Regions from separate parts of the Homo sapiens genome. Here regions 2 and 3 are each linked to region 1. Evidence: fine-mapped expression QTL. A gene starts in region 1. Each other region holds a variant in brackets. All regions are shown on one strand. Distances are from middle to middle. Region 1 holds the start of CDYL2 (chromodomain Y like 2). Region 2 overlaps ARLNC1 (androgen receptor regulated long noncoding RNA 1). Region 3 overlaps CDYL2 (chromodomain Y like 2).

Region 1 (2,756 bases):
GTTGTCCACTTGTGGAAAACCCAAAGCAGTAACAGTTGTGTTCCTAAGCCCTTGCTCCCCAAAGACCATGGGTGTTCCTCCATTGTTTGAAAGATGCCAGACTAATGTCTTCCTTCGCCACTTTTGGGAAGACATGAGAGTATCCAACGCTGGCCACTACTCATTAGGACCTGGAGCCAGGTATCCACTGAGGGTGACGAGAGTACTGGGCGCTGGGCTGGCATCTGTGTCCTATGTCCCCAACACCTCAGACTTCCACGTTCTCCTCCCACCCAGGGCCCTCCGCAGCGCCCCCTTTCGCCCCCAGGGAGCACGACACCCGCAAGGGCCACCCCCACGCCCGAGCCCGGAGGGCGTCCGAGCTGGTGCGGGGGCAGCAGGTGGGGGGTGAGGGAGGTGGCCCGGGGACCCCGGGGAGCGGTTTGGCGGTTGTCCCCCCGAACCCCCACCCAGCCTCCCCCTTCGCAGCCCCCCGGGACCCCGCCTCGCCCCGGCCAGGCTCCGCTCCGATCGCCCGCCCCCCTCCTCCCCCGCGCCCCCGGCCCAGCCGGGCCGCGCAACCCCCGCCCCACACCCCCGCCGGCCGCGGCGCGCCCCCCCGCATTCCCAGCACGTCCGGCGCCGACTTTTACCTGTACTTTCTGTACTCGAGGCGGCTCGTCGGGCGAGAAACACCTCCCCGGGACCGCTACCTCCCCCGCCCCGGCTCCGCCCGGCTTCCTCCTTCCCCTCCAAGGCCGCAAAGTAGATGGAGTAAGAGAGTGTGTGTGCGAGAGAAAGAGAAAGAGGGAGCGGGCGCGGGCGCCGCGGGAGGCGGCGGGCGGCGGGCGGCGGGCGGGAGGCGCGCCCGGCCCCCGCCACCCTCCGGCCGCCGCCGCCGCCGCCGCGGGCTCGGCAACTCCGGATTGCGCCCGGCCCCGGCCCCGGCCCGGTCCCCGCCGCCCGCCGCCGCCGCCCGCCGCCGCCCGCTGACTGGGGCCGGCCCGCGCCCCCGCGTCCCCGTACCTCGTAAAGGTCCCCAGAAGCCATGCCAGGCTGCGGAACTTGGCTCGCCGGTGTGCGCGTCTGCTCGCTCGCGCCCTCCGTGCGTGTGCGCGCGGGGTCCGGTGTGCGCGTGTGTGTGCGCGCGTGTGTGTGCGAGTGTGTGTGGTGTGTTGAGTAAACTGTGTTTTTGCAGAATGACAGGCTTGGGGGCTGCCTATGCGCAGAATCAGAGCGGGCGGCGGCGGGGCTGGCGTAACCGGCAGCAGCGGCGGCGGCGGCGGCGGCGGCACGAGCGCGGGCAGCAGCGACGGCCGCGCAGCGCGCCCGGGAGGCACGGACGCGGCCCGAGCGCCGCGGCCCCCGCGACCCGGCGACCCGGCGGCGGTGGCTGCAGCCGGCAACGGCTCGCCCCGGCGCCGCCTGCAGGAAGCCGCCCGGCGCCCGCCGCCGGCCCGGACGCTGCTGCCACTGGGCGAGTCCCCGCCCCCCGGGAGCCCGGCCCGGCCCCCGGGGCGGGGAGGCGGGGGCTGCTGCCCGGCCGCGCCCCGGGGGACCGGTCCCAGAGTCGACTAGCGCTCGGGCCCGCCCCGCCACCCCGGGCCGGCTTCGGGAGCAGCTGGCGGGGCCCCCGGGGGGCGGCGGGCCAGGTGCCCGCCGGGTGCGCCCGATCTGGGGCCGCGAAGGGGCGGCCGGGGAGCCAGGTAGAGGGCTGCGGCTGCAGACCTCAGGGAAGGGGCCCCAGCCGAGCCCCGCCGGCCCGGGGTCCCCACCTACCTCCTCCACCCTCGAGGGGAGTGGACGCCGCCTGGGAGACCTGGCCCCTCGGGGCTGCGCGGCCCCTCCCTCCAGGCTGGGTTGTAAGATGTGGAGGCCACAGGGAGGAAGGATGAAATGGCCCATCCAGAGGCACCATGGGGATCCAGGACAGGCGTGGCCACCCCATAAACCCTGGAAAGTCTTTAGAGCCAGGGGTGGCCTTCCCTCAACAACCCCTCTCCCCGAATTTATTCACTCATCCCTTACTCAAACATTTACCAAAGTCAACCCAAGTGCACAGTGTCCCTGGACAGGCAAAACTGGGACCCTGCCCAGAGACAGTTTGAATCCGCAAGTGAGGAGTGTAATGGAGCACTCAGTTGTTCTAAAAGGTCATCCTGCGTGTGACAGGCTGCGGAGCTGGAGGAGCTAGAGAAGCTCTCCAAAACCCAAATCCGTTCCTAAGCCATCTCTCATGGATAAATGGTCACCCCTCTGCTTAAAGGGTTCTCCTTATAAATATTTATGTATATAGTTACTTCAGAACCTGCAAGGTCAGACTTCTGAAATTGGAGGGAAGATCTTCATCCCCACCCATGAAATGCCTGCCTGGCTCCAGATGTGATGTATCATTAACTCACATGCTCCCTGGATCATTTTCTACTTGGGAGGCTGTGGGCAGGTCACCGAACCCTGATGGGAGATGGTGATAGTCACCTAAGTGATTTAAATAGAATTAAGGAGAGGATCTACGTATACATGAAGTGACCTGTCCATCCCAGCAGAACTCAATAAAGGTGATTTGTATCTGAGTCTCAACCTGGACTGCCCTCATGGAGAGTGAGATGGCAGAGGGGCTCGATAAATTGTTTAATCCTGAGGTTGTCAAACTTTGAAAAGTCACCAAATTTTTTAATCCAAAAAAAAAAAAAAAAAAAAAAAACTCCATGGAACCTGAAGCATGTCTGGCTCATTCCAGGACACATGGATTTGCATTTGCTGTTCCCCCTGCCTAG
Region 2 (2,756 bases), 28 kb after region 1:
ACTTAGTCATTCATTCATTCAATTATTCACTTATTACATGAATATTTCTTGAGAACCTAGTGTGTGCAGGGTACAGTTGTACATGGGAAGGATACGATGGTGAGCATATCGGATGCAATCCTGGTCATTCTTGAGCTTATATTCTAGTAGAGGGAGAAAGATAATAAGCAAGTGATACAGTTTGGGTATTTGTCCTTGCAAATCTCACGTTGAAATCTGATCCTCAGTATTGGAGGTGAGGCCTAGTGGAGGTTTTTGGACCATGGGGGCAGATCATGCATGAATGTCTTGGTGCCATACCTATGAGTGAGTTCTTACTCTATTAGTTCAGGCAAGATCTGGGTACTAAGAAAAAGCCTAGCACCTCCTCCTCTCTGTTCTTTCCTGTCGCCATGTGATGCAGCTCTCCTTCGCCTTCCGCCATAACTGGAAGCTCCCTGAGGCCCTCACCAGAAGCAAATGCTGGCCATGCTTCACGTACAGCCTGCAGAACCATGAGCCAAATAAACTTCTTTTCTTTATAAATTACCCAACCTCAGGTGTTCCTTTATAGCAACACAACGGACTAAGACACTAAGTAAGCCATTAAACAAGCCAATACAGGTAGTGATATGCACCTTTTTTTTTTTTTTTTTTTTTGAGACGGAGTCTCACTCTGTCACCAGACTGGAGTGCAGTGGCATGATCTCTGCTCACTGCAACCTCTGCCTCCCGGCTCCAAGCGATTCTCATGCCTCAGCCTCCCGAGTAGCTGGGATTACAGGCACGCATCACCGTACCCAGGTAATTTTTTTGTATTTTTAGTAGAGACAGGGTTTTACCATGTTGGCCAGGATGGTCTTTATCTCCTAACCTCGTGATACACCCCCTCAGCCTCCCAAAGTGCTGGGATTATAGGCATGAGCCACCGCACCCAGATGATATGCACTATTTTAAGAAAAAAAAAACCTACTATAGAATGGCAGGGAAGAGGGGGAGCAAAACTCCAAACTGTCCAAAGAAGAAACATTTGAACTAAGATGGAGGCAATGAAGAGGAACCAGCTGAGTGATGGTCTAGGGGCAAGATCTAGGGGAAAGTCAAGAGAAAGAGACTGAAGAGAAAGGGTTAGGGCTGATTTAGTGAGCAAAGATCCAGGAGGGGGAGAAGTTTACAGTACCCTGAGAACAGCAATAATGCACAAACATTACTATTCCAACAGCTGCATTGAAACACCCTTGGTAGGATTGGGA[A/G]AAAGATGGATTATTGCCATTTGGACACTCCAGGACTGTCCATTAATACTCCTGACTAATGGAAGATGATAAAGATTGGGCAAGAAAAATGACTGCAGCAAACGCCTTGGCATCTTCAACTTGTCACCTTTAGCAAGAGGCCTCTTCAACAGTTCTTGGACTGTGTTTGGCAGCCAGGCACTCTCAGAACGGCAAGGAGACACAGCTAACATGATCTTTGCAATGCAACAAAACAAGCGATCTTGAGGCGACAGAGTCCAAAAGATGACAGAAAATTCATCCAACTCCTGAAGCATGTGATGCCACCAGAAAGCCTTGGCAACAGCCCTTGCAACCCCAGGCTACACCACCTCAGTCAAAGCCAAGTCCTAACATATCTCCCTTCTTCTCCTGCAGCCAAGCTGGGCAAGAAGAGATTAGACTCCAGCCCCTTGCAAAAGCTTCAAGCTGCATGTGTCACCAAAAGACCTTGAGAAAGTCACAGGAAAGTGTCTAAAATCTACATAGAAAACATTTGCCCAAGGAGACTTGTGTGACAAGGCAGGGCCCACTTTGCAGAGCTGGCAGATGTCACCATTGCTTGAGAGTTCTTCTCCTTGACTTAGTTCTGTAAACCAGATGCCCCCCAACACGCTCTAGTTTGATGACGGCATATTTTCTTTTATTCTCCAAATAAAATGTGTCGAGCTCCCATCTCATGTACTAGGAGAGGTCCTGTGACCTTTCCAGTGCCTCAGAGAGTGAGAATGGGAAAGAGGAGTGGATGAAGTAGGGCTTACCCTCCTGTGGGTCACCTCTCTTCCCTGCTGCTTCTGAACCCCACTCAGCCTCCTTCCCTCTTCCCCAGCAACTATCCCAAAGCTGTTACATCGTGTGGCAAACGTTTACTGAGGCTTTTAGGGATAATATAAGTGGTTTCTTTACAACCATTCCTTCACAGCCAGAACGCACGTAATTTAAAACTGTGTCATTTTCACACACGTCCCATAATGTCTCCTTCATGGGGAGCTTCTCATGGCCTTGGTCTCTCCCCAGAGGCTGCCTATGGCCATATTTCTGGGATCCAATTCTCACACACTGGGCCCCTCATTCTTGGGCTTCCCACATTCAGTTACCTCATTCTTGGGCTGCCCACAAACAGTCAAAATCCTTATTTTCTAAGCTGAAGCAGTTGAGCTCTCTCACTTACCCTTACAAATCTAGGTTTTGCCTAGAAGTAGTCAAAAAAGCAAGACAGAGACATCTTCATCAACCACAAAGTCTCATCAAAGTATTTTACTCCATCAAAGAGCCATTCACTTCTGATAGCCATGCTCTTCCTCTCTTAAAAGGCAGATTCTCTTTGTTTTTTTTTTTTTAACTAAATACAACGTTTTCTTCCTACCACACTGCCTCATGATCCTATTAAAAGATATCAAGATGAGGACCAGCCATGAATTCACTTCCCTCCGCAGTCCACTAACATGTTGCTTTAGTGAAAATAAACAAAACAAAAATTTAGAAATTAAACTAGGGCATTTGGAT
Region 3 (2,756 bases), 160 kb before region 1:
CGTTTGTGCACTGTGGAAAGGGAGAGTGTAGCAATTGTGAGGCATTGAACTCACTGTTGTCCTGTTATAGCAGAAAGCAAAAGCATACCAAACTCAGCTGACGTCTACCCAATGACGGAGCATTTAGACCAGCCCTAGCCAGAGGGGAATCACTGATATCCCAGTGGTCAGAACTTGAGTTCCTGCAAGTCTTGCCACAATGGGATAAAGTGCTCTGGGGCCCTAGATAAACCTGAAAGGTGGTCTAGGCCACAAGGGCTAGACCTCCAAGGCCAATCCTAGTCCCGCAATGGGCCCAGAGCCAGTAGACTCAGGGGGCACACAATCCACTGAGACACCAGCTGGGGTGGCTAAGGGAGTGCTGGTATCACCGCTCTCCTAACACCAGACTGCACACCTCAAGTATCCAAAAGAGATCCCTCCTTTCCACTTGAGGAGAGGAGAGAGAAGAGTAGGGAGGACTTTGTCTTGCATTTTGGATAACAGCTCAGTCACAGCAGGATGGGGCACTGGTCAGAGTCATGAGGCCCAGTCTGGGCCAGAAGGGAACCTGCTGCCTTCAAGGGAAGGATCCCATCTTGGAAGGATTCATCACCTGCTAACTGAAGAGCCCTGAATAACCAGCAGCAATATACAGGTACCACGTTGAGGGCCTTGGGTAAGACTCCGAGACTTGGTGGCTTCAGGTGAGACTCAGCACATTCCCATCTGTGGCGGCTACAGGGAGAGATAAATACCTGACTCTTCAATTCCCAGACACAAACATCTACAAGAATCAAGATCATCCAGGAAAACATGACCTCACCAAATAAGGCACCAGGTACTAACCCTGGAGCAAGGGAGATATGTGACCTTTCAGGCAGAGAATTCAAAGTAGCTGTTCTGAGGAAACTCAGAGAAATTAAAAATAACACAGAGAAGGAATTCAGACTTCGATTAGATAAATTTAACACGGAGATTGAAATAATTAAAAAGAATCAAGCAGAAATTGTGTAGCTAAAAAGCGTAACTGGCATAGTGAAGAATGCAGCAGACTCTGAATAGCAGAATTGAACAAGCGTAAGAAAGAATTAGTGAGCCTGAAGACAGGCTATTTGAAAATATATAGTCAGAGGAAATAAAAGAAAAAGGAATAAAAAACAGTGAAGCATGCCTACAGGATCTAGAAAATAGCCTCAAAAGGGCAAATCTAAGAGTTACTGGCCTTAAAGAGGAGGTAGGGAAAAAGATGGGAGTGGAAAGTTTATTCAAAGGGATAATAACAGAGAACTTCCCAAGCCTAGAGAAAGATATCAATATCCAAGTACAAGAAGGTTACAGAAGACAAAGCAGATTTAACCCAAATAAGGCTA[T/C]CTGAAGGCATTCAATAGTCAAACTCCCAAAGCTCAAGGATAAAGAAAAGATTCCAAAAGCAGCAAGAAAAAAGAAACAAATAGCACACAATGTAGGAGCTTTAATACATATGGCAGCAAACTTTTCAGTGGAAACCTTACAGGCCAGGAGAGAATGGCATGACATATTTAAAGTGCTAAAGGAGAAAAACAAAAAACAAAACAAAACAAAACAAAAAAACTTTTACCCTAGTATAGTATATCTGGTGAAAATCTCCTTCAAACATGAAGGGGGAATAAAGACTTTCCCATACAAACAAAAGCTGAGAAATTTTATCAACACCAGATCTCTCCCACAAGAAATGCCTAAAGGAAGCACTTCAATCAGAAAGAAAAGGATGTTAAGAAAATGTGGCACATATACACCGTGGAATACTAAGCAGCCATAAAAAATGAAGAGTTCATGTCCTTCGTAGGGACATGCATGAAACTGGAAACCATCATTCTCAGCAAACTACCGCAAGGACAAAAAACCAAACACTGCGTGTTCTCACTCATAGGAGGTAATTGAACAATGAGAACACATGGACACAGGAAGGGGAACATCACACTCTGGGGACTGTTGTGGGGTGGGGGGAGGGGGGAGGGATAGCATTAGGAGATATACCTAACGCTAAATGACGAGTTAACGGGTGCAGCACACCAACATGGCACATGTATACATATGTAACAAACCTGCACATTGTGCACATGTACCCTAAAACTTAAAGTATAATAATAAAAAAATAAAAAAAAAAAGAAAGAAATCATCTGAAGGCATAAAACCCAGTGGTAATAGCAAGTTCACAGAAAAAAACGGAATACTATAACATTGTAACTGTGGGATGTAAACTACTCTTATTAAATAGAAAGGATAAACAATGAGCAGGTCAAAAATAATAACTACAACAACTCTTCAAGACATAGTACAATAAGATATAAATAGAAACAGAAGTTGAAAAGCAGGGGGATGAAGTTAAGGTATAAAATATTTATTAGTCGCCGGGTGTGGTGGCTCACGCCTGTAATCCCAGCACTTTGGGAGGCCGAGGTGGGTGCTTCACTTGAGGTCAGGAGTTCGTGACCAGACTGGCCAAAGTGATGAAACCCCATCTCTACTAAAAATGCAAAAATTAGCTGGGCATGGTGGCATGCCCCTGTAATCCCAGCTACTTGGGAGGCTGAGTTGAGAGAATGGCTTGAACCAGGAGGCGGAAGTTGCAGTGAGCCAAGATCTCGCCACTGCAGTCTAGCCTGGGTTAACGGAGCGAGACTCCATCTAAAAAAAATTATATATTTATTAGTTTGTTATTGTTTGTTTCTTTATGCAAATAGTGTTGTTATAAGCTTAAAATGATGAGATATAAGATATTATTTGCAAACCTC

The links. PIP is the estimated chance that this variant, and not a neighbour inherited with it, causes the effect.
Region 2: its variant is fine-mapped to the expression of CDYL2 in whole blood (INTERVAL, PIP 0.98).
Region 3: its variant is fine-mapped to the expression of CDYL2 in testis (GTEx, PIP 0.96).

Annotation. Positions count from the first base shown.
Region 1 is chr16:80,803,145-80,805,900 of GRCh38, forward strand. It overlaps CDYL2 (chromodomain Y like 2), which reads right to left and starts at 1,454. Exons shown (of 7, transcript NM_152342.4): 1 at 1,006-1,454. The coding sequence starts at 1,029. RefSeq lists silencers at 235-384, 665-734, 1,345-1,654, 1,675-1,734.
Region 2 is chr16:80,831,393-80,834,148 of GRCh38, forward strand. The region is part of intron 2 of ARLNC1 (androgen receptor regulated long noncoding RNA 1); the gene reads right to left. Among named protein-coding and RNA genes, the nearest start is that of CDYL2, 28 kb to the left of the region's middle. The variant A/G (reference allele first, on the strand shown) is at 1,233.
Region 3 is chr16:80,639,791-80,642,546 of GRCh38, forward strand. The region is part of intron 2 of CDYL2 (chromodomain Y like 2); the gene reads right to left. Among named protein-coding and RNA genes, the nearest start is that of LINC01227, 68 kb to the left of the region's middle. The variant T/C (reference allele first, on the strand shown) is at 1,353.